Regions from separate parts of the Homo sapiens genome. Here all the other regions are linked to region 6. A link means that fine-mapping ties the variant in region 6 to the plasma level of a protein whose gene starts in the linked region. Region 6 holds a variant in brackets. A gene starts in each other region. All regions are shown on their reverse strands.

Region 1 (4,064 bases), not on the chromosome of region 6:
CTCAGCCTCCAGGAGAATGAGTAGCTGGGACTACAGGCGCCCGCCACCCCACCTGGCTAATTTTTTGTATTTTTAGTAGAGACAGGGTTTCACCGTGTTAGCCAGGATGGTCTTGATCTCCTGACCTCGTGATCCACCCGCCTCAGCCTCCCAAAGTGCTGGGATTACGGGCGTGAGCCACCGCGCCTGGCCAGTTGTTTTGTTTTATTTTTTATTTTTTTTGAGACCGAGTTTTGCTCTTGTCACCCAGGCTTTCAGCTCACTGCAACCTCCGCCTCCCGGGTTCAAGCGATTCTCCTGTCTCAGCCTCCCGAGTAGCTGCGATTAAAGGCGCCCGCCACCATGCCTGGCTAATTTTTGTATTTTTTAGTAGAGACGGGGTTTCACCATGTCGGCCAGGCTGGTCCTGAACTCCTGACCTCAGGTAATCCACCTGCCTCAGAATCCCAAAGTGCTGGGATTACAGGCGTGAGCCACCACGCCCTGCCTGGAGATAAAGTTGTTTTTTGTTTTGTTTTTGAGACGGAGTCTCGATCTGTGGCCCAGGCTGGAGTGCAGTGGCTCTATCTCAACTCACTGCAAGCTCCGCCTCCCGGGTTCACGCCATTCTCCTGCCTCAGCCTCCTGAGTAGCTGGGACTACAGGTGCCCACCACCACGCCCGGCTAATTTTTTGTATTTTTAGTAGAGAGGGGGTTTCACCGTGTTAGCCAGGATGATCTCGATCTCCTGACCTCGTGATCCGCCCGCCTCGGCCTCCCAAACTGCTGGGATTACAGGTGGGAGCCACCATGCCCGGCGATAAAGTTTTTAATAATCAAATGCCAGGCCTCCTTTCCTATGCATCGACGGCAGTCTAAGTGGTCCCTAAGTGGTCCCTCCAAATCCCACCATCCTCAACACTAACCAGACACAAGCAACTCTGTAGGTCACTATACCAGGTAGTCAACAAGGAATTTAAATCCTTGGTTATGCTTGGTCTTCTGGCCCATGCATTCCAGAATGTAGCTCCTCCCCCATCATGGCAGGACATCCCCTCTGTACTACCTTTTCAGTCTCTCTTTTCTGATGGCTCCTTCTCCCTCCCCACCTCTCCTCTGTTAGCTGACTTAACTGCCAGAGGTCCTGACCCCCTCCCTCTTCCTGCCACTCCACCAGCAATATCTTTCTAAACACAGGTCTGGGTCACACCACTCTACTGATTAAAAGGCTCCCCAGACTCCTGCACCCCGCATACAAAGTTGGAACTCCTGAGCACAAGGCAGGCCCAGAGCTCGCACCTGCCAAGCTGGAGGACTCCCAAGCACTATTTTAGGTGCTCATGTACATGTGGTTCCCTGTGTCCAGGCCTTGATGTCCCCCACTAATTCCTGCTGGCCCTGAAAACCACAGCTCAGGAATTCCCTCTCTCCTCAGGCTACTATGTGAGCACGCTTAGCGGGCAGACACTATTAATCATGGGTTCCCTGGTCCCCACTGCCCCCTAAACTGAATTCCTTAAGGGCAGAAGCAGACTCTTTTACATGGGTCCCTAGGATCTACCACAGAATTTGGCAGGTAGTGAATCAAAATATTTGTTCAAATGAATAAATGCATTTTGCAAAATCAATTTTTAAGAACAGTGAGGATTTGCACTGTGCCTCTTTTAACAAAAGCACATGTCAGCACAAGCTTTTATATCCCATAGGGTCTTCACATGATGGATCCAACTCCCTACTGAAATCTGATTTCTCCAAAATACAGGACACAGGCCATGAGCTCTTCTTCCTTAGTTCACAGCAAAAAAAACCCACAAAAGTTCAACTAAACTTCTCCATACTCAAACTATGGATTTTTATGCCTCCAAAATGTAGTACGGTTGAATTCTTTTTTAGAACAGGAACATTCCAAAATAATGTCTCTGAACTTAACTAAGCATAGAACCTGATAAAACTGCAATACCCCATCTACACCAGACTTTGCAAAACACCTGAAAGCACATCCAGCTCTTTATCTGGAATTATGTCCTATAAACACCACCTTCCCTTCACGGAGTCTGGCTTCTATGCCAGGAGTCACTTCTACTCGCTTATTTAGGGAAGCAGCAGGCTAGAATCTTAAGTTAGACTCTGCGCTATGAAGGTGCTGTCCCAGGCTCTTGCCTCAACCAGTCAAAACTTCATCGTCACCATTAAAACTAATTCTGAAGCAACTCGATTTACAAAAATAAGAACTTTTCAAGTTATAGAGATTAAAGGATGCATTTTAAGTTACCAGTTGAGTTTGTAGGAAACTAACTTAGAATTTATGGCAAAAAGATTCCAAGCCGAGACGACATTTTCTGTGGAGACACTATCCAAATACACTCGCAGGTGAACCAGGTCTGCCAAATACAAAGTGAAAAGGTAGTAAGTAAACAAGCTTCCAAAGGAGCTCAAGTAAGGATGACGGAACCCACCAAGGCTCTGAGCAGCTCTGACAGAGCAGTGGCGGCAGCGGTGCCCTTCCCTGCCTCTAGCGGGGCTCGACTCCCCACAGTCGGAATCCGGCCCAACTGGGCCACAACCCCTATTGGAAGCCAGGGAGGCGGCCCGCAGGCGGCTCACGACCGCGGCCAAGGCGCAGGCTCCACGTTCCCGGGAGCGCGGGCCGAGCTAAGGCCTGGCCCATCGCCGCGGCGCGCGGCCCGGGCCTTGCAGCCGAACGCTCCGAGCCTTTGCCTGCGGGACCCAGAGCAAAGGGGCGGCTCCGCCCGGGCGGCACCGCCTCCTCACCCACAAGGACGTCCGCGGCCGTGTCCCCGCCCCGGGCCGAACAGCGAGCAGCAGCAGGTGTTCCGCGGAAGGCTCAGCCGGCAGCAGGGATGGGGGCCCAAGCAGCCAGGCACAGCGGATAGGGCGGGCGGTGCACTCACCCAGCGCCGGCGGGAGGACCGCGGCAGGTGTTCGCTCCTCCTGGCCCCAGGACGCCGCCACCGCCGCTCCCCGGGGATTCGGCGCGAAGCTGCCGCCGCCGCCACCGCCAAGCCTAAGAGGCGCGAGCGCCGCGCCGCAGCCTTCGCGCGAGCACGTACCGGGCGGTGAGAGGGCGCTGAGCGCAAGGGCGGGGCGCGCGGCCGGAGCCTAGCAACCGCCTGACACGCGAGTGTTGCAGCCAATCCAGCGGCCAGCTCCGCGCGGCGCCGACTGGCTGTCCGCGCGCCGCCGGCTTCTGCCTGCGTCGGCCGCTCCGCAGCGCGCCGCACCCGCGCGCAAGCCCCGCCCCGGCCAGCACCTCTCTGCTCATTGGCTAGCCACTCCCCCGCCCTAAAAGTCACGCCCCATTATGGAAGCCTCGCCCCCACGGCCAGGGAAGTCCGTCCCGGGACACACCCCGGCGGTCGGTCCCGGTCACTCGGAGCCTTCAGAACCAGTAGTGTGGGGGAGGGGCTCCCCGCCCAACTTCAGGCCTTTGGGCCTCTAAGACTAATCAAGGGACAGTCAGGACTGCGAACTGGCCCAGCAACTGGCCACCCGTCGACTGCGTTCAGCCCTCCTTATTTCCTTCGAATGCAAATCAAGGGGTATTTCTAAGCCATGAGAACAATCAGGAAGCGTTCTCTCAATTGCAAAGGATGAAAGCCTTGCTGCCCGGCCCTTACACGGATGGGAGACTGAGGCCAGGGACAGGAGGAGCGGGAAGCTAGCTCATCTCCTAGAGCCTCGCCCACAGCAGGCTGGGGAGTCGGAAAGCGCCTCAGGCCTAACCCTCGTCCCCTCCCCCTGCCTGGAACACTGGAATCCGACGCCTGCTCTCCTGCCCAAAATAGCTCTAACTCGCAGGCGCTGGTCACTCACTCCTAGTGGCCTGCATTCTTTTGGTGGGGGAAGAAATAAGAGAGGGGGGTTGCTGCCTGGAACATTCAAGGGGAGGGTCCTAAGGTAGCTCTAGCTCTCCCCAGGACTTAACCTGCAGCCCCCCACCCCAAAAGCCCCAGACTTCACAGTTACTGAAACTGACAGTTACCGGATGGGTCTGGGAATGAGACCCGTGGTGGGCTCTGCTTCTCATCCCCACACCATGCGCAGGATGGGTCCATTCCCTCCT
Region 2 (4,065 bases), not on the chromosome of region 6:
AACAGGGATAATGATATCTGTCTTACAGACTCATGAGGAGGTGGTATGAAAAACACCTGCGATGTAGTAACTTAATAAATGGTGATTATTTTAATAATTATTTTGCATTTGATATGTCATTTAAAATGTCACAATAATTCTGCAACTTAGATTTCATTCTCTGTTACACACCTGAGAAGAGCAAGGCTCAGAAGGGAAGAGTAATTTGCCTACAATAATACAGCTACTAAGTCAAACCAAGGATGCGCTTGTCCAGTGCCAGGATTTGTTCCACTGCCCTGCCCACTGGAAGTTCCAGGACAATCTCTGTCTCCTTTCAGCCTCAGGAGGTACACTACACAGGCTGCCTCTGGAGGAGGGCAGAGGGGGACCTGCATGGCAGTTTTTCATACTTGTGCTCTTTCGCTGACTGATTTCAGATGGACACCTGTAGCTTTCAAAGTCTCTATAATTTTCCCCAACCCCTCCACCTTATCTCCCTCAAGTTCTATTTCTGCTCATCATTTCCGTTCAGGGAGTTTTTTTTTTGTTTTTTTTTTTTAAAGTGAGGGCCTATTCCAGAACCACCTGGTTAGACCCAGGTACCTCTCAAAAATACAAACTTCTGATGAATTCAAAGTGGGTAAGAGTCTGCTGATGCTGACCACTTAGCGATGCAGGGGAAAATATTGGGGGCACCAGCTGCCTGCGTGGTCTTGGGCAGATCACTCCAGGCAGGCTCAGATACACATAATGAAGCAGTTATGTGAAGTCCTTATAGGGGGACCTCATGGTAGTACTCCATGAGATTGATGACAGAAGAGATATTTCTCACTTATAGGGCTCCTGATCCTTTCTGAGAGCCCTTAGGATAGAAAAATCTTCAAAGACTAGAATACCAGTGACAGGTGGAGAACTGTCCTCTGTCCTCCATGGGATTAAACATAAAGTGCCTATGGTATGAGTTGGTTCTCTAAGTAGAGACTGATTACATTGCTTGAGTAAGGAAAGAAAATTCAAGTGATTCTTTCCATTTATATTACTGTTATGCATAACCAATTTTATAAATACATTTATAAGTAAATAAATACATACCTGTATAGTATCATCTTGTTCTTAAAGTTGCCCTCAAAAGGAGAGAAGGCTAGAAGATAAAGTTTCTGAGGCCCAGGAAAACTTTAACATTCCTTATCTAACTCATGGCAGAACCTGGATTAGAAAAATGGTCTCTGATACCCAGCACCACTTCTTTCAGCTCCTTCATCCCTGGGACAGTCAACAGGGGAGTCAGTTCCCAGAGCCATTTTTCCCCCTCTCTCTAGTCTCTTCCTGACCTGAGAATCAGAGATCAGAGATTGATAAAAAGCAAATGTTAGATGAGAACACAGAGCCTCCCGAGTTGAGCCAGAGGCCCAGAGTGGAACAAGAAACCTGGAACTATTCAGGATGGGGTAGACAGGAGAGTGGAAGAGAATCCGGCCGGACTCACCTGTGAGCTGCCAAAGGATATAGATGAGGGTGAGGCATGTTGGGGAACCAGCCATATTGCTCTCTGGAAGTCAGCCACTGAAATGAAGCCACTTCCCTCTTAGGTATTACTCAGACCTCTTCCCCAGCTGATATTTAAAGAAGCAGGAGGGGTCACGCCGCAGACATGTGAGATTGAGTAATTGCTAAATTATTTTCAGAGTGAATAGAGCATTTTACCTTGCCACCAGCAATCTATGAGAGATCTATTTGCTCCCCATCTTCATCAGCATTTGGTATATTCCCATTTTATATTTTAGCTGTTTTAATAGGTGCTGTAGTGATACCTCATTGTGGCTTTAATTTGCATTTCCCTAAAGCCTAATAATGTTGAACATCTTTTCATGTGCTTATTTGCCATCTATATATCCATATCCTCCTTGGTGAAATGTCTATTTATGTCTTTTGTCCATTTTATAATCAGATTCTTTATTTTTTTTACTGTTGAGCTTTGACAATTCCTTATATGTTCCAAGTATAAGAGTCATTTGTCAGATATGTGGTTTACAAATATTTTCTCTTGGTCTGTAGCCTGTCTTTTCATCTTCTTAACGGGGTCTTTGGCAGAGCAAAAATTTTAATTTTGATGAAATTCAACTTATCAGTTTTTTTTCTACCCACACTAGGGTCCAAAGGTTTTCTCCTGAAAGTTTTATAGTTTTATGTTTTACATTTAAATGTATGATCCTGTTTTAATGTAAGGTGTGAAGTTTAGGTTGAGATTCACCTAAATATATTGTCTATATTCATTGAGAACCATATCAGGTAATATGGTTGACAGTTTTTTTTTGCTTTCGACACTTGAAAAGTGTCATGACACTCCTCCCCTCCATGGTTTCCAGTGAGAAATCAGCCATCATTTAAATTGTTTTCCCTATAGGTAATGTGTCATTTTTCTCTAGCTGTTTTAAAAGTTTTTTGTTTGCCTTTGGTTTTCAGAAGTATGATTACAATGTGCGTGTTTTTTTTTCTTCTGCCTGTGGGTGTTCAATTGTTCTACTACCATGTGATGGAAAAGATGATCTTTCCTACATTGAATTACTTTTGTATCTTTATCAAAAATCAGCACTTATACTTGTGTGGGTATATTCTGGAGCTATCTATTCTATTTAACTGACTTACATAATGTAATTATTTATATATCAGAGCTTAAGTTTGCCATGTTATTATTTTCTCTTTGTTCTTCTGGGCTTTTGTTTGTTTATTTTGTTCCTCTGTTTCACTTTCCTGGCCATCCTGTGTGTTACTGGAATATTTTTTATAATTCCATTTTGATTTATCTATAATGTATCTTTTTGAAGAGTTTTTTTACTGGTTGCTGTACATATTGCATTTTACATACATAACTTTTGATCTACCTATCAGTGTTGACATTTTACCAGTTGAACTAGGTATAGAAAACTTACCTATATTAGGTTTCTTTATTAGTCTATCTTTATACTTGTCTTAAATATATTGTCTATATTCATTGAGAACCATATCGGTAAGATTATAAGTTTTGCTTCAATTGTTGAACATAATTCAGAACACTCAAGAGGAGAAGGACAATCCATTACATTTACCCATATTTTAACTCTTTTCATTGTTATTTCTTTATTTCTAATGTTTCAAGTTTCCTTCTTTTTATTTTTTTTTGGACGAAGTCTTGCTCTGTCATACAGGCTGGAGTGTAGTGGCATGATCTTGGCTCACTGCAATCTCCGCCTCCTGGGTTCAAGCGATTCTCCTGCCTCAGCCTCCTGAGTAGCTGGGACTACAGGCTCATGCCACCATGCCCACCTACTTTTTGTACTTTTAGTAGAGATCAGGTTTCGCCATGTTGGCCAGGCTAGTCTCAAACTCCTGACCTCAGGTGATCCACCAACTTTGGCCTCCCAAAGTGCTGGGATTACAGGTATGAGCCACCACACCCAGCCTTCAAGTTTTCTTCTTTAATCATTTCTTTCTGTTTCAAGATATTCTTTAGGAATTCTTTTATGATAAGCCTGCTGATAACAAATTATCTTAGTTTTCCTTCACCTGAGAATGTCTTGATTTAACCCTCATTCCTGGGTATAAAATTCTAGGTTGACAGTTTTTTTTCTTTCAACACTTGAAAAGTGTCATGACACTCCTCCCCTCCATGGTTTCCAGTGAGAAATCAGCCGTCATTTAAGTTGTTTTCCCTGTAGGTAATGTGTCATTTTTCTCTAGCTGTTTTAAAAGTTTTTTGTTTGTCTTTAGTTTTCAGAAGTGTGATTATAATGTGTCTTGGTGTGAATTTCTTTGGGTTTCTCTTATTTGTGATTCATTGAGTCTCTTGAATCTGTAGGTTTTTACCTTTTGCTAAGTTTGGGGAAATTTCATTATTTTTTGAATACTTTTTTTTCAGCCTCACATTCTCGCTTCTCTCCTAAAATTCTGATGACATGAATGTTATAAATCTTTTGTTTTTCTCCCACAGGGCTCTGAGGCTCCATTTTTTTTTTTTTTTTTTTTTTTTTTTGGCCTATTTTCACTCTGTTTTCAGATTGGGTATTTTCTATTGTTTATCTTCAAGTACACTGATTCTTTCCTTTT
Region 3 (4,055 bases), not on the chromosome of region 6:
GACCTGGGTCACTTGTGCCGTGGTGGAGGAGAGGTGACATTGTAAGATGATAGAGCCACCTTTCTCTGCAGAAATGTTCCCCGTTGTTTCTATTGTGCCTGTCATCATTCCTAGGGAAGAGGACGAAGCACATGTGAGTCCTGGGTCAGCAGCTGGCCTTCAACCTTCCTAGAAAAATTCTAAGGGCCTTTGAGGCCCCAACTGGATTTTGGAATGATAGTTTCTCCAGTCCATCCTGTTGCTCCTCCATAGAGGCTGTAATTATTTCCTGTTTCTTCCATTTCAAGAGACGCTCCTCTCCATGCCTGTTATTCAAGGCTCCCAGTCCCCCATTCAGGTTGTCTTTCCAGTCTTCTCACCCTTCTCCACACATCTCTACTCCAGCCCAGCCCAGCCCATCTCCTCCCCACCCACTGCCCTATGCTTCCAGAGCTGACTTCTGCCCCTCTTTACACCTCGCCCACAGGGAGGCTTGTCAAGGCTGCACTCCCTCCCCGCCTCCTAGAAGACCTCAGCCCATCTCAACCTCCCTTTTCCTTTCACATTCACTGCCTGTATTGTATAATTAGCACCTTACTAAATGCCTGGCTTATGACTACACAACTTAGCACGTTGCCCCCTCGCATATTCTGCTATGTAGCTTCATGGCCAGCTTGTTATTTTCGTAGGCCTATTTTGTCTACCCACTTAGAATATAAGCCCTTGTCAGCTGATACCACCTCTTCTGTTTTTATTTTGTTTTGTTTTTATGTTTCTTCCTGCGGCCTAGTTCTATGCTGGATGCATTATCCTTTGAAATAAAACCTTGCTGTTTGGTTGATTGTCATTTGCAGTGCCTGAAAAAACCTTCAGGAAAGCCAAGAAATCCAATAGCAAAGGAAGCTTAGCAGGAAACCCTGCTTCTCCCAGGCATAACCACCCTCTCAGCACTTAACCTCTCCCCAGCAACCCTGGGCACATCTCCATCCTCAGATAGTTCAGAAGGCAACATAAAAACTAATTTATACCACAGTTTTTAAATATTTGTGTTCCCCTCCCTCAGAAATATTTGACTCTGATTTTTAATATAGAAGAAATAAATTTAACAAAAAATCAGTCTCTAGTGGTAGAACCTCTGGAATCTGTGAAAAAGACATTTTCAATTCACAGAGAACTTATAATGTTTTCCTGGAAAGTTCCTGAAAGGCAACAGAAAAGAAGCTGGAGCAGGAATGAGCTTCTAAAAGCAAACTGGCAATGCCTCCTGCCCAGCCCTTCTTCTTCTCCTGCTCCTTCTTGTGCTGGCCAGTCAGGCTCCTCCAACCCCGGAAGTCTGCAAAGTCCTTCATCTGCCACCAAAAACAGAACCCCACCTCATTCTCAGAGATTGTCCTTTCTTAAATAAGAGTACACAGGACTCTAAAAGTTGCAATTTCTTTCTCTCAAGCAGCTGTGGCATGCTCTTGGAGTCTTCCCTACACAAGCACCCAAGTCTCCAACCAAGCTTAGCCTTGTTTTTCCTCCCTGCTGCTCTGCTGGGTTTCAGGCCTTACCTGAGGCGAGGGGAGCCTGCCTCAGCCCCTGGGCCCAGATCAGGAGGAGACACCAGCGCATGCTTCTGCCCAGAGGGCCTACAGGAAGCAGATGTGGCCTCTTCTGCCACTGAAAGTAGCCGACTGCAGATAGGACGGTAAAACTGAGCCTCTGAGAAAAGACGGTCTCGGAAAAACCAAGTTTGGCAAAAACCATATTAAAAACACATAAAGTTGTCAACAAATACACAAACTGCATAGGGTGAGCCACAAGAAAGGCCATGAAGGAAACATTTAAAAATAAATGAAAATTGTGGTTAGAGGTACACTCGTCTTTGGATTATAGTCAATCTATTGTTTTTAAGTTCTGTCTTAATGTTTTTTCTAAAAATCAGCCTTTATTCAAAGAGCTCAAGGGCATCTGTGTAGTGCCCAAGATTCTGAAGAATCTGCTACTGATGAGGAACTGTTGGCTGAGCTCCTCTGGCATCCTCCTGATGAAGAATGTGCAATGATAAGAGAAGCTTATCATTGTAGGGACTTACAGGCCAGGGACTGCACTTGAAATCTAATGAACAGGTGAACAAGAAGTGTTTACTTGGGGGATGATACATGGATGGGACAAAGGTCTTGGACAAACACAGCAACTTTCCCTTGAAGGAGATCTTCTACTCGAATCTTATTTCTTTTGTCTTGTTTATCTGGACTGAGACTTTATTGAATTCTGGCTTGATTTCTCTGGTGCAGTAGGATCAGAGGAGATTAGAGGAGAGAGCTTTCCTGTGCACAATGACCTCATGAGAGCTGGAAATGCAAAGAAGGGTGAGCCCCTGGGAGCTGACCCAGGAGAGGGATTGGTTGACATTTGCCTGGAGCTCCCAGCCCATCACCAGGTCCTACTATGGACCCATCCTTCTTTCCTCCCTCCCTCCCTTCATTCATTTGAAAGTCCCTGGGTGCCTACAAAGCACCAACCTCAACACCAGGCTCTGAGGATATGAGAGTAAATAATCACAGCCCCTACCCTCAAATAGTTTACAAAGCTTGTTCCTTGGTGAACTCAGTCAGGAGAGGGGGTAGAAGATCCACATTCACCTGCCTCGCAGGCTCTCAACACAGTTGCCTTGGGGATGCTCCATGTTGTACATCCTGAAAATCTGCATCTGCACCCAGAAGCATCTGAAGCCTGGTGCCCCACCCCCTCCATTCCAGCCATGCACCTCTAGCATTTCACACCATCCAGGCTCCTACCCTCCTTCTCCCTTGCAAGGTCTTCTATCTCAGGCCAGTTTTCTCCCCTCTCTGGGTTCTGCCTATCCCCAACTCTATGACTTGTATACCCCTTATACCCCACCTCCAGACCCTTAGACAATATACGCCTTACCAGCTTCTCTCTGCCTACCCAAAGCAACCTGTCCTTCAAGGCTCACATCAAGAGATGCCTTGCCTTTCAATAGCTACAAAGCCTTCAGCTGAAGGAGAAATAATACCTAATGTGTGTCCAAGGGAAGGTGCCAAGGTTGAACTGGAGGGATGTTTCCCAAACTCACTAAGGCCGGGGAGCCAGGAGTGGCAGGGCCAAGAGCAGCTAGTGGGACTAGAGCACAGAAAGTGGTGGACACTAGGATTTGGGCTATAAAAATTTACAGCCTGTGTTTCCATAGTTGAGCTGGGTGGGAGCCAAAGAGGTGAGACCTCTCTTATATAATGAGATATCCAGAGAAACTTAGAGGTGGTTTTAAACAATTGTTAAATAATTTTTCTGTTTTTTGCTAAGTAACCAGTCCAAAGAGGAATATGGTCAAGTCCATTTTGATCAATGGTGCTCTAGAGGGGGATGATTAACAGACTGGGTCCAAAGTCATCCTGTTTGGTGACCTTGGAAAACTTTCTCAACCTCCTGAAGGCTCAGTTTCCCCATGTGCATATAGGAATAAGAGTACCTCTTTCATAGGGTTGTGAGGATTTAATTCTCTAGTGTTTGGTGAAGTGTTCAGCACAGTGCCTGGAAGATGGCAGGAGTTCAATACATCAACAGTAGTATTGATAACAATATTAATTAAGGAAGTGAAAGGAAAATTGGAGGACAATATCCCTATCTATATAATGTGCTTTGTCAAGAGTAAAATCCTAGTCTCCAGACTCCAAGGCCAGGGTTCCACCCAACCTCTTCATTCTGCCCTCCTTATCTGATAGAACAGGAGGATAGCATGTTTCTGCAGGAAAGTGACCACTTGCCAGCTAGACCCTGAGGCTGCCTTGGAGGAAAGCAAATGACAGAAGTCTCTCCCCAGGGAATCTACCCCAGACCCTCCAGAGCCTCCTGCACAGACTCCACGGGGAACCTGGCTGGTTCCCACCCACTCAACACCAGCCCCCAGCACTGAGCGGCTCAGCTGTGAGAAGCAGGCCTGCTCTGAGAGCTCCCCGGGCCACCCTGAGCTTTTAAGGCCAGTCAGCAGCCCTCGTGGCATAGCAGGGATCTGTGAGGTCCATCAGGTGCTGACTCACATTTCTATTTTAAAAATGCTAAAATCAGCCACT
Region 4 (4,065 bases), not on the chromosome of region 6:
TACTGCAGGCTTCTTAGGAGGCAAGTCCTCCCCGTCCATCCCACTGCAGCCCCACATTCTAGCTTCTCAACAACTTTACCAAATGAGCAAAGATGGTCAGACATAGGTTTTAGTTTGTCTTACCCAACATCTAGGAATTTTTTCAAAAGAAGGTTTTACATTGGTAGACATCCAACTTTAAAAGGAGTACCTTCACAACTCTAAGTGAATAATAAAGTGCATTTAGGCCCCTTGCTAAGAGCAGACATGACCACGGGTGCTGGGAATGCCTATGACTGTCTTAGTCATTCTGGAGTCATTTTTATCCCTAGGTGAACTAAAAATGTGTAATAAATCAACAATTAGTGAGTCCTAAAAATCTTGGCATACCACTTGAATACTCACCTTTCTTTGGGATCTTTTATGTAAGTGTCAATAAGAAGACTATACATTTCAGAATGTATGTTTTCCATGGCAATTTGGAAGCCATAGAAACAGCGGGCTTCTGTAATCTGAACTTCTTGGCTAAATCGCTCCACCTAGTGGCAAAACACATCAAAGTTAAGCTTGAGAAAAAACCAACAGCAGCAACTGTCAACGGATACTGGCAGCATCGCACTCTTTGTACCATTATAAGGTTTATTTCTATATATATTTCATCCAATTTGTCACAATTCTTTGATATTTTATGTCATATGCTCAACTTACATATCAGGAAATAGATACATATAAAATAGGATTTGTGAGCGCTCGATTTCCTAATTAATTTATGTCAAGAAAGATCCATTCGCAATAAGAGATACAACCAAATTATTATTAAAACAGCAAAGCCACAAAAAGGAGGGAGCAGAGCCGGGCGTGGTGGCTCACGCCTGTAATCCCAACACTTTGGGAGGCCAAGGTGGGTGGATCACCTGAGGTCAGCAGTTCGAGACCAGCCTGGCCAACATGGTAAAACCCTGTCTCTACTAAAAATACAGATATTAGCTAGGCATGGTGGCGCACGTCTGTAATCCCAGGTACTCATGAGGCTGAGGTTGGGGAATCGCTTGAACCCAGGAGGCGGAGGTTGCAGTGAGCCAAGATCACACCACTGCACTCCAGCCTGGGCCAGAGTGAGACTCTGTCTCAAAAAAAAAAAAAAAAAGAGGGGGCAGATGTGGTGGCCACAAAGAGTCATCACATTGCTACCACTTAATATTGTCTCAGCTTCTCTAGAGTCGGGAAAATACCATAAGAAAGAACTGCAAAGTGTTACAAAACAGGAAATGCCATGTAATATAAAACCCAGCTTACACACACAGATGCACTCAGCATGGAAAAACATACAAGACGAGGAAAGCGAACTAGTTCGACCTCAGATCGTCAACGTCAAATGAATGAAAGATGTTTTGGAAACTCACCAAGTTTTCATTTACTATGCCATCGCTTGCTGCAAAGAAAGCCAGAACATGGGATATAAAATATCTCTCCTCGGGTTTCAGGGATTCCCAGTGCTGAATGTCCTTGGAGAGGTCCACCTGAGGTTCGGAAGTCACAATTTTAGCATAAAAGGAAGAGAGTAAAGCCTACAGGACTCACACTGAGCACTCAAACTTTAAGTATGCTGGCACCACTTACTATGCCCCACAGTTAGCCCCCCTTGCCAACGGGAACCTCCAAGTGCATTTATGTCTGAGGCGTGACGGTCACCCCTGCAGGGGTCTTCTGGGGTCCTCCGATTACCTCCTCGGCGGTCCAAAAGGAAGCCTCTGCCTTCTTATACATCTGCCAGATATCATGGTACTCGATGGGGAAGATGACAAAGCGGCGGGGGTTTTCTCTCAGCAGCGGCTCATCCTCCACGCCGGGGGCAGCTGCTTTAGTTTTCTGTTGGGGGAGAAAATAAAACATTTAAGTACCGGGCGAACCATATGAAACTAACGTTTTTCTGGACCAAGTCCTTTCCATTGGCGGCAATTTCACGGGGCCCGATGTGAAAACGTGGCTGTCCCGTCGCACTCCGTGGGTCGCAGCAGAGGAGCGCACGCCCGAACCGGGAAATGGGCCGAGGGGCGCGGGAGGCAGCCCTGGGGAGGGGCCGCCTAGGCGGGAAAGGAGCCGGGGCGGGAGTGTGAACAGCTGAGGAAACAATGCGGCTTTGGCGCCAAGACGCCCAAGGCCGTCCCTGGCCCCTCTGCCCCACGCCCGCCACTCACCGGCTCCGTGGGCTCCTGGAAGATCCTCCTCGCGGTCTTGCTGGCCAGGACGCGGGTCCCGCTCAGGGCCGGCGGCTGCGGGGAGACGCGTGTGAGTGAGGAGCGGCTTCGCTTTCCCTGCCTCCCTCCCCTGCCCGCAGCGCCCTCCCCGCGGGCTCACCGTGTTCTCCTTGTCGACCAAGCTGAGCCCCTTCAGCGGCGAGAGCTGCAGCTGCTGCGGGTCCGTGATGGGCGCGAGCGGGACACGGAGGGAGAGCATAGTGGAGGCGCAGCGAAGCAGAGCGAGCAGCCAGGACAGGACGGCTGGGACAGGGTGCACGGGCGACCCCTCACTCCAGCAGCCTTTAAATCTCCCGCGCCGCGCGCTCCCGGCCCTTCCCATTGGCTTTGGTGCCCCGGCCCTTCCCATTGGCTGTGCCATGCCTCCGACCCTTCCCATTGGCTGCGCCTTGCCCCTACCCAGGCTGGCCGCGGGGCCGCGCGCGATTTTCAAGCGCAGCGCGGGAGCCTCCGCCGGCGCCTTCCGGAGACCCCCGGGGACACCCCCGTGGACGCCCCCCGGGACCTCCCGGTTCCCCCCCCGGCCCGTCCGCTGGCTGGGTCGGGGGCGCCGCCGCCCAGGCCCCCACAGGTCCCGCGGGACCAGGGCCGCAGCCCCTGAGGGTCTCGGCGGCCTTGGCGCGCGCGGGCCCCGGTTCGCCCGGGAACCGTTTAGGATTGCGTGAGGAGCAGCGATTGGAGCCCGCGGGCGCGAGAGGATCCCCGGGCCGCGGCCCCGCCTCCCGAAAGCACCTCCTCCCAGCCGGGCCGCCGCCGGGCAGGGGGCTTAGCCAACGAGGTTGGTGCAAAGGCCTGGAAAACGCTCCTGGGTGCGGGGGAGGCGTTGCTGCGACCCTTTCGATCCGTGTCCCTGCGGTGGGGGTGCAAGGGCCCCGAGGCCTGACATTTTGGCGGGGTGGTCGGCGAGGACCCTACAGCCTAAAAGTTAGGGCCGCTGAGCCCCGTGGCTCGTTTTGCTGGGACAAGCGACCAGGCTTCTTACAGATTCGGTGTCCCCGTGAGTAAAATGGGACTCGTAACCGCGTGGACTGTTAATGCGGTGAGGAGAGCGTTCGTTGAGATGACTCATGTAAAATGTGCAGTCCTTTGTAAACCTTCAAACTACGGGACATGGCGAGAAGGCCCTTGGTGCAGTTTTCCACAGAAATCCTGTCTCCTGTCAGACCCCTGACCCCTATTGTCACCCTTGCCTTAAGAATTGCAAACTGTGGCTGGGCGCGGTGGCTCACGCCTGTAATCCCAGCACTTTGGGAGGCCAAGGCAGGAGGATTGTTTGAGGCCAGGAGCTGGAGACCATCCTGGGCAACATAGTGAGACCCCGCCTCTGCCATTAAAAAGAGAAGAAAAAAAGTTGTTTTAATTGCAAACTGAGCAAAAATTCCTGGGAGAAAGTTCACAGAATGATTTTAGGACTAGGAATTAATGTACTACTCATTGGGCGTCAAATATGCTGAAGAGGAGTTTGAAAACTCCACTGGTGTAGAGACTGGAACTTAGCAATAGCTTTCATTTAATTTTCTATGTGGCTTTCTGATTTGCCAGGCCCTGCAACGGGCAAAATGCCAAAAATAAAGGAAGAGAAAGAAACTTTAAGATCCAAGAAAGAAATCATTAACCTGAGAAAGCTTCAACAGCTGCGCTCAGGGCTGTTATTGAGAGAGACCCGGGACTTTTTTTTTCACAAAGCCTTTTCTAGATAAGATACTTTAAAGAGGGTGGGGTGGGACAGGTACCCTCCCCACCTAGGTCTGTTTCTCTCATTTCTTAAAAGTACTACGGACTTGTAAATCATAGTATTCTCGTGTTGCAGGAATAAGTGCCCATCACA
Region 5 (4,065 bases), not on the chromosome of region 6:
ATGTGAATTCCCATATCCGAATGGAGACATTTAAAGAGCAATGAAATGTAAACTGGGGAAGAAGTGATGGCTCATTCAGGTTGGGGAAGTGGGTTTGTCCCTGGGGGAAGCCCAGTATAACACTATGGAACTAATACTACTTCTCTATCTTCCAAGGGTAGGATGGGTAGGAGGATGAGATAGAGAAAAAGTTAAGCAGCCAGGAGCAGTGGCTCATGCCTGTAATCCCAGCACTTTGGGAGGCCGAGGCAGGCGGATCACCTGAGGTCAGGAGTTCGAGATCAGCCTGGCCAATATGGTGAAACCCCATTTCTACTAAAAATACAAAAATTAGCTGGGCGTGGTGGCAGGTGCCTGTAGTCCCAGCTACTCGGGAGGCTGAGGCAGGAGAATCACTTGAACCCGGGAGGCAGTGAGCTGAGATTGCACCACTGCACTCCAGCATGGGCAACAGAGTGAGACTCTGTCTCAAAAAAAAAAAAAAAAAGACAAAAAAAACCGGTTAAACTTCCTTTCTCAAAAGTAGGAGCAAGAGGCCTGCATGGTGGCTCCCGCCAGTAATCCCAGGACTTCTGGAGCCTGAGGAGGGAGGATCGCCTGAGGCTAGGAGTTCGAGAACAGCCTGGGCAACATAACAAGAGCCCCATCTCTACAAAAACAAAAAAAAAATTCTTAAGTAGGATCAAAGATTAAGACAGTTGATTTATTAAACCTCTACTAAGTGACCAAACTTTATTAAACTCCATGAAACCCCATGCCCAACCTCCTTCTCAGTCACACTGAGACACTCTTGTACATTTTCCACATGGGGTTTCAATTCCCCACAGTATTTCTGTGACTTCCTTGAAGACCACACTCTAACTGCTGTCATGTGGCCTCTGCCTACCTACTTTTACTGAGAAAGGCTAAGTTTTTCTTCAGAGTATCATAGTTCTCCTTAAATACTGTTGACGACTGTCATTGTCAACTGATACATCCTTTCTGGAAAGCATTTTCAGTTTTCTTCAAAAGGCCTTTAAAATATTCAGGCTCTTTGACTAAGTAGTTACACTTCTAAGTTTACTTGAAGGAAACAATCAGCAATATTCCAGAGATATATATGCAATGAGTTCAGTGAATGGCTAAGACAGAACCACTGTAAATAACCTTTATACCCAACAGTGAGGAATTAATTTCATTTAGTTACCCAATCTAATCGAATGCAGCAATGAAAACATTTTTTAGAAGGTTATTTAATTCATAGAAAAGCATCCACAGTAAATTTTTTTCAAGTATTAAAAAAAGAGGTAGAACAATGGTACTTTTACTCCTTGTGTTATAAGACAAACCCAGACTGAACTTTGACATAGGCCAAGGTCAATGTGTCTAAGAAATGTTTTATTATACTATTTTTATTCTTAGGCTCCTCCATTCCTCTTTTAGGACTCCTTTGGGTTCTCAGAATGGACAGAGCAAATAAATTCCGTTCAGGGATCCTGGACCTGCTTAGCGCAGGAAGAGACTTACTTAGATGCTGCAGCTGGGATAACTTACACAAGTCATGTTACTAGCAAGCAGCTGGCGGTGGACTTGGACCCGTGTCCAGACCTCCAGCCTAGCATCAGAGCTATATTCTGAACACACAGTCGCATAAGAATGACTACCTATCCTATACTACCTATCTTATTTATTTTTAGAGGTATAAATTATTTTTAGAGCAAAACTGAATCGCGCCTGGAGGAAGGCCAGATGCATTGCCTGTTCTTATTAACCCCAACAGGTAATTGGCTCTACTGCCCCCTAGACCATCGCGTTCCCTTTCCCTTCTCCTCTCTCCATCCCAAAGAAAGGGTGTAGAGACCCTCCGTCCTAAAGTGCCCAGCGAGCTAGCCAGAGATACTGGGCCGTGGGCACCCGCGGAGGAACAACGCTCCCTACCTGCAGGCGGACAGAAGCGCGGCTGGTGCGGAGCCTCGGGAAGCTGCGCAGAACTGGGGCCGCGCGGGACGCGCCAGCTGCTCAGCGTTGCGCCAGGCCCGGAGGCGGGGTCCCGCCCACCTCTGCCCAAGGCAGCAAATCCAGTTTGCCGGGCGTTGGACTTTCCTGACCTTCGGTGAAATCGGCGGAAGCTTTCAGTTTAGGTATCTAGTGTTGGTGTCCTAGGAATAAAGCTGTGTATAGAAATGAAACAGAAAGTGAAACATGTCAGTCCAGTTTTCTTGTAAATGAGATTTTCACCGGGAAGAGTTTCGAAGATTAAAGCAAATCCACATTTAGTATGTTATTAATAAAAAAAGAAATTTACAACAAGCCAACATCTGAACGCACCTTGATTTTACCTTCAGAGGGGTAAGAGCTTAAGGTTACCCCTTAACCTTTATCAGAAAGGCGTCCCCCTTTCTGATAAAAGCCTCTTCAAGGTGACTGAACATCTTGACATAACTTGATATAACTCTACAACATATAAAAAGTCAGCAGCAGACCCATATGGCTTTGGTTTTTATTCTAGAAAGTAGGTGTGTGTGTGTGTGTATGGGTGTATAATAGGAAATATATTTTTAAATCGTGGATTCTGTGACTTCCTCAAAGTTCCTCGACATAATGAAACTTCATTTGCTTTGTCATTAAAAGAACTTCCCATCCCGAGCTACATCTTTTAAGAATGCTCAGGGTCCCTGATATTCTGCCACCCTAAGGATTAAGGCTGCGGAAGCCTATTCTAGGTGAGGGTTAAGAAAGCCCTTTTGAAAGCTTTGGGTTAGTGAATGGGCCCAAGATGACAGACGATGGTGTCATAATTTACTTAAGTATTATCCCGCGCTGAACTTCTAGGTGCTCTCTTTTCTCGAACTCCTTGACCTCAAGTGATCCGCCAAAGTGCTGATATTACAGGCTTGAGCCACCGTGCCTGTGTGCTCCCTTTTCTTTTTTTTCTCTTTTTCTAAATTGAGAAATTGGACTCTTCGTTGTTTGCCTTTCCTTCTTATTCATTTCAACTGCAGTTCAAAATACTGCATAATGAATGAATATTGAGATAGCCCTTGCATTGGTTATGACATTTGCTTCCAAAATAAGAATTTTCACATTCTGATTGTATCACAGATTTTTATTTTTATCTGGGAAATTATTGAGGCTGACACTGCCTTGATTTGGCAGGAGCATGGAGTTCTCTTTGGCCCCAATAAAATTGCAATAGGGTTTGGGCCCAGCTCAGATGTTCCTTCTTTCAAATCACTTTTGAGGTCACATAGTAGAATAGAGCAATTTTGGTGACTGTAAGTTTGGGTGACTTCCCAAAGTTCCCGAAGTTGGGTGACTTCCCAACTTTGGTGACTGTGACCTCTAGGAAAATATAGACATTATGTGGCAATACAGTTTACAGGTACTGCATATATATAGTCTGTGTATGACACACACATGTACAACAAGTTTCATGAAAAAATACTTAGATCTACTATCTGCAATGCCCTCTGATATTTTCATTTAATGTTTTATTTTTCTAAAAATGGTCAAGACCCAGGGCATAAACTTTATGATCTGCTAGTTCATCATGACTCTTGAGGTCTGCAAAAAACAAAACAAAAAAAAACAACTGGCTTCAGAGCCATCTACCACTAACTAGCTGAGTTAACTTGGGCAAATAATTTACCAAGTAGCCAGGATTAAATCATATCCTCCTAGATGGCCTGGATGATCTATGAATAATTTTTTAAACTGGGGATGGGTATTTTGTTTTTGTTTTATGAAAGCAGTGTTCAGGGTCTACCTAAATGATCAATGAGGCAAACGGAATTTGCCTTTCTCTAAAGTTGCTGATGGGAATTGAGGGTATTTGCTCAGCTTGCTGCTCAGTGATTTGCGTATTAGTAATGTGAGGATTCGTGTTTTTGTTCATCTTTCCCACCTGTTTCTACCCTTCAGCCATTCATTTTCCCATACAATTGATCAACTACCCGGAGATTGAAAAACAGGCTGTGTTTAGAAAAAGAGAAATTTTATTACCTCAGAAAAATATGTAAAGCAAAACAGATGGTTAATGAGTGGGGGGTTAAGTCCTGAAACTCTGTGTGAATTTTTTTATTTGGA
Region 6 (4,065 bases):
AAATTCTGTCTAAAAAAAAAAAAAAAAAAAGGAACACCAGCTTTGGTGACCAGTAGGCTAGCACCCGCTCTGCCTCTTCCTGTGAGAACACTGGTGCCTCACTCACCATCTCGGAGCTTTGGGTTGAGGATTCACAGTGAGGCACCATGTCAAATAAACACAGCCCCGGCCCCAGGCAATACCTCTTCGTTGCTTTGAGCAGGTGAAATTTAGAAATTGAAATTGCCCCTTGGGAGAAAATGTCCAGGAATTTGGGTGTCTGTGGCAGGGGTCTGGGGGGAAATGAGAGGCTCCCTTAAAGGAGGGACAAAAGGATAAAGGGAGAAGTTGCCAATGCCAGCTTTTTTTGTTTGTTTGTTTGAGGCAGGGTCTTGCTCTGTCGCCCAGCCTGGAATGCAGTGGCGTGATCACTCACCGCAGCCTCGACCTTCCAGGCTTGAGTGATCTTCCTGCCTCAGTCCCCCAAGTAACTGGGAGTACAGGTGAATGCCACCACGGCCAGCTAATTTTTATTTTTATTTTTTGTAGAGAGGGAGTCTTGCTATATTGCCCTGGCTAGTCTTGAATTCCTGGCCTGAAGCATTCCTCCCGCCTCAGCCTCCCAAACTGCTGGGATTACAGGTGAGAGCCACCATGTCTCATGTGCCACCTTTTAAAGCAGGACTCATAAATCCTGCACTTGCCAGGTGTGGTGGCTCACACCTGTAATCCCAGCACTTTGGGAGGCCGAGGTGGGCAGATTGCCTGAGCTCAGGAGTTTGAGACCAACTTGGGCAATATGGCGAAACCTTGTCTCTACTAAAAATACAAAAAAAATTAGTCAGGCTATGTGGTGCACACCTGTAATCCCAGCTACTCGGGAGGCTGAGGCATGAGAATCACTTGAACCCGGGAGGAAGAGGTTGCAGTGAGCTGAGATCATGCCACGGCACTTCAGCTTGGTGACAGAGTGAGACTCTGTCTCAAAAAAATAAAAAAATAAAAAAAAATTAAAACAACAACAACAACAAAAACCCCTGCACTTGAGGCAGGGGATGAGCCGGCAGGACCTTCCAGGTCTTTGGGACTTCAGCAAAATTCACTCACACACAGCAACCCAGCCCTTGGCTGGTGTCTCCTTTTTCCCATGTATATACCAGGGGAAGGGGACCCTTGAAGTGGAGGGACTCTGGCCCTCACTATCGCTCCCCCTTCCTCCATGTCCTGCCCAGTGTGGAGCCAGGCCAGCGTGTTTGTGGTGGAGGATGATTTCGGTTCCCTCTTGTGGGTGGCTGGCTCAGCCCACTTCTTGGGTGGGGTGGCCATGGTGGAAGGAAGCTCCGCCTCAGATCCCACCTGGACCACCATCTGCCCCTGCTGGTGGCTAGGTGAAGAGGGGCATCACTGCCATCAGTCCAGAGACTGAGATCTGGATGCCAAACAGCGGGGCCAGGGGACACCAGGTCAGCCACTGACTCATATCCTCGTCACCAAGCACCTGCTATGTCCTGGGCACTGCCAGGTGCTGAGACACAGCGGTGAACAAGGCAGACCAAACCCCCTGCCTTCCTGGACCTGCCTTCCAATGTGGGGAGAAGCCCGCCAAGGGTACATCCATAGTTATCAAGCCCAGATACGTGACCTGCAATTGGCTTCTCCTGGTTTTTCTCCTATGTCACTGGCTGTATCTTCTCATTTCCTTTGTGGGTCCTGCCACATCTTCCCAACCTCCTGAGAAAAGCCCACAGGCCTCCATGATGTCATCTCTCCTCTCCCCTCCTCTCTGCTGCAGCCACATGGCCTCCTGCCTGCGGGCCTCTGCATGTGCTGTTCCCTCTGCCAACAACGCTGTTCCCTGGCCATCTGCATGGTTTGTGCCCTTATTTCCTTCAGGTCTTTGCTCAAAGGCTGCCTTCTCAAGGAGGCCTTCCTCGGTCCCCTCCTAGTAAAATGACAAGCCCTGCAACCCATCCTCATGAACAATTCATATCCTCTTGCCCTGCTTATTTTTCTCCTGGGCTCTTAACTTCAATTCATGGACTGTACGAATGTTATTTACTTATTTTCCCCTCTGGTCAGGAAGGGCAGGGGCACTTGTCTTGTCTGTCTTTAAAAAAATAATAAGTTAAATGAGGTGAAGTTCCTATAACATAAAACTATTTTTTTTTTTTTTTACATAGAGATGGAATCTTGCTATGTTGCCCAGGATTGTCTTGAACTCCTGGGCTCAAGTGATTCTTCTGCCTTAGCCTCCCAAGAGGCTGGGACTACAGGTGTGAGCCACTGCGCCCAGCAAAACTAACCATTTTATTTATTTATTTATTTATTTAGAGACAGAGTCTTGCTCTGTCACCTAGGCTGGAGTGTGGTGGTGGCAGGATCATGGCTCACTGTAGCCTCGGCCTCCCAGGCTCAAGTGATCCTCCTGCCTCAGCCTCTGAATAGTGGGACTCCAAAAAAAAAAAAAAAAAAAGCCCAGTGTACAGGTGTGAACCACCATGCCCTGCAAAACTAACCATTTAATTAATTGTTTAATT[T/AATTT]TTTTGATAGAGTCTTGTTCTGTCACCCAGGCTGGTGTGGAGTGTCATGATCTCAGCTCACTGCAACCTCTGCCTCCTAGGTTCAAGTGATTCTTCCACCTCAGCCTCCTGAGAACCCCGGAATTACAGGCAAGCACCACCATGCCCGGCTACCTTTATATTTTTAGTAGAGATGGGGTTTCGCCATGTTGGCCAGGCTGGTCTCAAACTTCTGACCTCAAATGATCCGCCTGCTTTGGCCTCCCAAAGTGCTGGGATTACAGGTGTGAGCCACTGTGCCTGGCCATTGCCTGTCTTTTTAACTTCTATCCCTGGTGCCTGGGACAAAGCAGTGCCCAGTAAATACTGGTTGAAAGAATGGCTAATGGGAAGCAGCGAAGGCCTCTGACTTAGCGGGAGGGGAAGGGTTGGGGTCACAGACCTTCCTGGAAGAGGCAATGGCTGAGTGAACACTTAAAGGATGAGGGGTGGCTGAGTGAAGGAGGAAGCCTCCTGGGAAGGGGACCAGCACATGCAAGGGCCTGGAGCCTGGCGCACTCTGGGAAGAGAGGGAGGCCAGGCAGCTGCAGCGAAGCGTGAGGAGAGTAAACCATGTGTGAAGAGGCTTGAGGGGTAGCCAGCAGCCAGGATAAGGAGGGCCTTGTCACCCATGGGATGGAGTCTGGACTTGCTCCCAAGGCCATGGGGAGCCATGGAAAGGCTTTGGGCAAGAGGGTGCCATGACTTGATTTCATGAAAGTTCTAAGAGGATCCCTCGGCTGCTCAGTGGAGAATGAACCCTGGGGATGAGGGAGTTGGGAGTGGCAGAAGGGAGGCCGGAAGGGAGGCTGCAGTAACCGACCTGGGGAGAGATAGTGGTGGCCTGGGATGGGGAAGTGGTGGCAGAGATGGAGAAGTGATGGATTCAAGACACGGTTTGGAGGTAAAATCAGGACTTGATCTCGGTGGCCAAAGCCCAGTTCTAGTTCCCAAATTTCCCTTTTTAGTTCTTCTGACTCACTGTCTGCTCTCCACACCTCTCCTGTTCCCAGCCACAAAGATGCCTGGGTGTTCACAGTAGCCCAAACGGAGACACCCTGCGGTCCTCAATGGATGGATGGATGGATAAACCAAAGGTGGCATATCTGGCCAGTTGCAGTGGCTCACACCTGTAATTCCAGCACTTTGAGAGGCCAAGGTGGGTGGATCACTTGAGGTCAGTAGTTCAGTTCGAGACCAGCCTGGGCAACATAGTGAGACCCTGTCTCTACAAAAAATACAAACAAAAAAATTGCCTGGAGTGGTGGCATGCACCTGTAGTCCCAGCTACTCAGGAAGCGGAGGTGGGAGGATTGCTTGAGTCCAGGAGGTTGAGGCTGCAGTGTGCCATGATTGTGCCACTGCACTCCAACCTGGGGAACAAAATGAGATCTTGTCTCAAAAAAAAAAAAAAAATTAGGGTATCCATACAAGGGAACATGATTCAGCCATAGAAAAGAAGAAGGACTGATACATGCCACAATGGGATGAGCCTCAAAACCACGATGCTAAGAGACAAAGCCAGTCACAA
Region 7 (4,054 bases), not on the chromosome of region 6:
GTCCCAGGAGAAGAGCAGACCAGGAGAGCTGGCTGGGGGAGGGGTCAGGGAAGGGGCAGGGAGGGGTGCCAGACTGGAGATGGTTCCTGGGTGTGCCTGGTGGGACCCCGGGGTGAGCCCCCGAGGGTGAGAGGTGGGAGCAGCCCCTTCTCTGGCCCCTCCTGCCCTCCACAGAGAGATGCTGCCCTGGGTGTGTGGTCACATGCCGACCAGGAGTGGGGCCGCTGCGACTCAGGGCAGAGCAGCGCCTGGAGGAAGGCCCAGGAGCCGCTTATCTCAGGAACACAGGCAGGAAGAGCACGGACACTTCCTGCGGACCCCGGGCTATCTGGGGCAGTGTCTGCCATGAGGGAGGCTGCAGCCTGTATGTCCTGGGCCTGGCCACAGCCATCCTGCCCTACCCTGCCCCTCCCAGGAACATTTCTGGGGACACCGGGCCTGGGCACTTACCATGAAGTGGTGCAGCAGAGGGGTCTCCTGGGCGGCGTGGCACATACGCTCAGTTCAGCTGCCCCAGGGCAGTGGCGATGGGCATGAGATGGCTGCGGGGGGGCATTGTCCTGAGTGGGAGGGAGACAGTCGAGGCTCAGCCCCATTCGAGCTGGCCTGGGGAAGGAGGGGCGGCGGTGGGGGTGGCGCCCAGGGCCTAGCGACCGGGCTCCCTCACAGCTGGCAGCTTTGTCAATAGTGGCCAGGCCAAGGCAGCCCTGCCTCCACCACAACAATGTTCCCTCTGTCCAGAGGCCAGGCCAGGGCCCCACTCGCTAGTGCTGTCACCCCCACTGGGCTGTTCTGGACAGGGGGCTCCTTGCCACTTCCCACCCTCAGGGAGCCACCCCCGGGATCCGGGGACAAAGGGCCGGGGTTTCCTCCAGCCAGCCCTCCCCCTCTGGCCCTGCAACCCCTGTGTCACTAAGCATGCCCCTCCCTGGCTCCCCGGGTCCCTGTGAAGGGCACGGGGTGGACCTTGGAGCCCCTGCAAATGCCGGCTGGTAGCCTTGGGGCCTGGGTGAAGTGCCAGTCCTGGCCCTCAATGCCTGCCTTTGTCCAAAAGATCTTCCTCCACACCCCCAGCCCAGCCCTGCCCCTGGGGACTGGTGAAGTGGTGCCAGGTACAGCATGGTGGCAGCGAGCAGGACCACGGGAGGAGGCTGCTTGAGATGGGCTGAGGCAGAGGGTCCACAGGCCGGGGCTGTCCACCCCACCCTCTGAAGCACCGTCCTGCTGGCCTAGATGCCATCCATGCAGGGGATGGGGAAGGGAGGGGCACCTAGCAGCTAGACCCCCTGTCACCCTCACAGGCCACCCTGGCCAGTGGCACAGGAGCAGGTGCACTGGGGATGGGGTCTCTGCCTCCCCCACAGCACGGCAGCAGTAGGCTCCAGGGCAAGGTGGCAGTGGGCTGCTGTCACCTGGCTGGGCCAGTTGGGTGGCTGTGGGGGTGGGGAGCCAGGCGGGCAGCCTCTCTACCCTGTACCCTGCCCGAGGCTGGCGTTGGCTTTCCCATTTCGGGGAAGAAACATGGTTCCCCACCTCCTAACCCCAGGGCTACCACTTGGGGGACACCGTGCTCCCAGACACCTAGTGCCGTCGTCAGGCTGGGCCGACACCCGAGCGCTCTTGCCTGACCCCAGCCAGTTGGCCCTGAGACCCTGATGCCTTGCCCTGAGGCTGGTAGCCCCTGCACCCCAAGCCCAAGCCCAAGCCTGCCCCAGCTCTTGCCTACCTGGTGGGCCACCGGCGAGGGCCAAGTAGCAGCTGGCGGTGCCAGGAGCACGTCTCACAGAGCCCCAGCCTCCCTCCCCACAATGCAATCGTGCCCAGTCCGACTCATCCCAACAAGCCCGGCCAGGCAGCCCAGCCTCTCTCCGCCCGCCCCTTTGCCCAATGGCACAGGGCAGGATGTTGCTGCCCTCTGCTGGCCGCAGCGGGCATGATGGAGTACTGACCGTGGGCACCTGGCAGGTGAGAGACGGCAGCGCCCTCCTATTGGGTGGGCATTCCATAACCTGGCACGAAGCACCTACTGGATGCCAGGCTTGGGCTTGGCACTGGCACCATCCAGAAACAAACACAGGTTGGGAAACTGAGGCACAGGAGGTTAGGAAACTTGAATAAAGTCACACAGCTAGTATGTGGCAAGGCTGAGTCAATCACAGGGCCCCTTCACTTAACCGTCAGGCTACATGACCTTGAACCATGAACCTTGGCAGGCGTTGGGCAGGAGATGGAGCTGAGGCCTACCCCAGGCCAGGCCTGGACGTGACATGCCCACGTGGCGTTGAGGAAAAACCAGTGTTTCCCACCGACTGGAACACAAGGTTGGTCAAGGGCCGTCTCCCAGGGTGTGGCGGAGGTCAGCAAATCAGGTGGGGTCTTTGTGGCCAGGCTTGAGAACTTGAACTTGTCTCGCCATGGGCAACTGCAAGCTGGTGGCACTGGGGCAGAGAATGTGGGGAGGCCTGGTCCAGTGGTGGTCATGGGCATGGAGAGAGGCGGGCGCGTTCTAGAGGCGCTCTGGGGAGGCAGCATTCTGAAGACTGTGCGTTGGACCCAGGGCAGGAGGCGAAGGCAGGAGAATCCAGGCGACCCTGGGGCTTTTCTGCTGGGGCACTGTTCCCCCTGTGGCAGGGCCATCCACAGAGGGGCTGGCGGAAGTGGGAGGACGGTAAGACTGAGGGGCCCATGAGGGAGGAGGAAATGGTGATGGGGCTGGGGAGGCCTGGGGGTGAGAAGCTTGGCTCAGGTGGCTGGAGCCCTGGGGGCGGCCAGGGTATAGGGCCAGGTGTTGGCCCTGGAGCTCAAAGGCCCAGCAGACTCGGGGTATGGGTGCTTCCCTGAGCAGCTGTGTCATTCTTTCCAACCTGCATGGAGAGAAATGGGGCACAGAGGTGGGTAACTTGCCCAGGGCCATGACCTGACGTCGTTTCTTCAGAGTGCATTCCACAGAGATGGGATTTGAACCTGGGCATTCTGGCACGGGCCACGCTCTGGACCACTGGGCCCCAGATCCACAGCTTCTCACCTGCAGCCGCTGAGGATGTGGAGGCAGACCAGGCAGGCCCGTGGGAAGGACCACCAAAAAGCGAGTGAGCAGCCGGCGAGGGGTCTCTCCCCAACAGGAAGGCCAGGCAGCCTTGAAGGAGCCAGGGAGGGATTTAGAAGCTCCAGGAGGGGAGGCTTGGGGGAGCCAGCTGGCCTCTCTCCCTCTCCCTGTCCTTCCCCCCATGCCTACCCCAACACACACACACATGTCCTTGCTGGCCCCGGATGAGACAGACGCCTGCAATCTGGCATGGGGAATGGGTTTCTCCTTCCTTTCCACAGAAGAAAATAAATCAGGCTGGGCGTCGTGGCTCCCGCCTGTAATCCCAGCACTTTGGGAGCCTAAGGCAGCAGGATCACTTGGGCCCAGGAGTTCTAGACCAGCATGGGCAACATAGTGAGACCCCCATCTCTATAAAAAAATTTAAAAATTAGCCAGGCATGGTGGTGCGAGCCTGTAGTCCCAGCTACTTGGGAGGCTGAAGTGGGAGGATCGCCTGAGCCTGGGAGTTGGTGCCTGCAGTGAGCCGTGATGGTGCCATTGCACTCTAGCCTGGGTGACAGTGCAAGACTCTGTCTTTAAAAAAAAAAGAAAAGAAAGAAAGAAAAAAGAAAATAAATCCATCCACAGGCAGCACCATTTTCATAAATATGTGTGTATATGGCCTGCATATGCACCTTCTACGCTTTCTGAGCAGATAAGAGGCGTGGCTATGGCAGCCCCTGGTCTGAAGCTGGTGTAACCAGAAAGGATCTAGGCTGGTTTGGGGAACCGGAACATCTTATGTCAGGGGAGTCGTGCTGGATTTATCCTGCAATGGCCGGGTCCCCTCACCAAGGGATGGGAAGGCAGCGTCAACTGATCTGGTGTCGTCTCCTTGCTGTGTGCCAGGCTTCTCAATGCTGGAAGGGGACTCGTTGGGTCAGTGGGACGTGGGCTTCACGTTTGCTGGGCTGAAGACGTAGCTCTCCATGCTGGCATCCCAGCGGACACCCCCACTGCCACTGC

Direction of the effects. Alleles are on the strand shown, and positions count from the first base shown. The strength of an association depends on the size of the effect and on how common the allele is.
For the plasma level of the protein whose gene starts at base 3,059 in region 1, T is the high allele of the variant in region 6 and AATTT is the other (weak association).
For the plasma level of the protein whose gene starts at base 1,578 in region 2, T is the high allele of the variant in region 6 and AATTT is the other (weak association).
As copies of T replace AATTT in region 6, the plasma level of the protein whose gene starts at base 1,627 in region 3 goes up (weak association).
For the plasma level of the protein whose gene starts at base 2,496 in region 4, allele AATTT in region 6 goes with a lower level than allele T (weak association).
For the plasma level of the protein whose gene starts at base 1,972 in region 5, allele AATTT in region 6 goes with a lower level than allele T (moderate association).
In carriers of allele AATTT in region 6, the plasma level of the protein whose gene starts at base 1,782 in region 7 tends to be lower than with T alone (weak association).

What was found. A credible set is the group of variants that fine-mapping cannot tell apart. PIP is the posterior inclusion probability: the model's chance that the variant is causal. Protein levels are from antibody-based Olink assays in UK Biobank. Linkage for the fine-mapping came from a reference panel and not from the study's own genotypes, which makes the PIPs less certain.
Region 1: it holds the start of DAG1, and the variant in region 6 is the best candidate, but not a certain one, in a credible set for the plasma level of the DAG1 protein (UK Biobank, PIP 0.51).
Region 2: it holds the start of SLAMF7, and the variant in region 6 is the best candidate, but not a certain one, in a credible set for the plasma level of the SLAMF7 protein (UK Biobank, PIP 0.77).
Region 3: it holds the start of TIGIT, and the variant in region 6 is the best candidate, but not a certain one, in a credible set for the plasma level of the TIGIT protein (UK Biobank, PIP 0.51).
Region 4: it holds the start of RRM2, and the variant in region 6 is the best candidate, but not a certain one, in a credible set for the plasma level of the RRM2 protein (UK Biobank, PIP 0.55).
Region 5: CD274 starts here. The variant in region 6 is the best candidate, but not a certain one, in a credible set for the plasma level of the CD274 protein (UK Biobank, PIP 0.50).
Region 7: it holds the start of PLXNB3, and the variant in region 6 is the best candidate, but not a certain one, in a credible set for the plasma level of the PLXNB3 protein (UK Biobank, PIP 0.56).

The regions. Positions count from the first base shown.
Region 1 is chr3:49,469,262-49,473,325 of GRCh38, reverse strand. DAG1 (dystroglycan 1) reads right to left here and starts at 3,059. Exons shown (of 3, transcript NM_004393.6): 1 at 2,893-3,059. RefSeq lists a silencer at 2,641-3,380.
Region 2 is chr1:160,736,760-160,740,824 of GRCh38, reverse strand. It overlaps SLAMF7 (SLAM family member 7), which reads right to left and starts at 1,578. Exons shown (of 7, transcript NM_021181.5): 1 at 1,469-1,578. The coding sequence starts at 1,523. It overlaps LOC124904440 (a long non-coding RNA gene), which reads left to right and starts at 1,666. Exons shown (of 2, transcript XR_007066687.1): 1 at 1,666-1,742.
Region 3 is chr3:114,291,600-114,295,654 of GRCh38, reverse strand. It overlaps TIGIT (T cell immunoreceptor with Ig and ITIM domains), which reads right to left and starts at 1,627. Exons shown (of 4, transcript NM_173799.4): 1 at 1,533-1,627; 2 at 1-110. The coding sequence starts at 1,593. RefSeq lists an enhancer at 3,429-4,055.
Region 4 is chr2:10,121,170-10,125,234 of GRCh38, reverse strand. RRM2 (ribonucleotide reductase regulatory subunit M2) reads right to left here and starts at 2,496. Exons shown (of 10, transcript NM_001034.4): 1 at 2,338-2,496; 2 at 2,178-2,252; 3 at 1,705-1,848; 4 at 1,383-1,499; 5 at 385-518. The coding sequence starts at 2,436. RefSeq lists silencers at 2,535-3,035, 2,442-3,041 and enhancers at 3,262-3,371, 3,392-3,461, 3,219-3,774, 3,823-4,065.
Region 5 is chr9:5,448,449-5,452,513 of GRCh38, reverse strand. It overlaps CD274 (CD274 molecule), which reads right to left and starts at 1,972. Exons shown (of 7, transcript NM_014143.4): 1 at 1,918-1,972. RefSeq lists enhancers at 1,696-1,855, 2,146-2,195.
Region 6 is chr12:111,387,125-111,391,189 of GRCh38, reverse strand. All of the region lies in intron 2 of LINC02356 (long intergenic non-protein coding RNA 2356), which reads right to left. Among named protein-coding and RNA genes, the nearest start is that of SH2B3, 17 kb to the left of the region's middle. The variant T/AATTT (reference allele first, on the strand shown) is at 2,517.
Region 7 is chrX:153,761,977-153,766,030 of GRCh38, reverse strand. It overlaps PLXNB3 (plexin B3), which reads right to left and starts at 1,782. Exons shown (of 36, transcript NM_005393.3): 1 at 1,727-1,782; 2 at 451-560. The coding sequence starts at 495. It overlaps PLXNB3-AS1 (PLXNB3 antisense RNA 1), which reads left to right. Exons shown (of 3, transcript NR_199696.1): 2 at 2,182-2,321.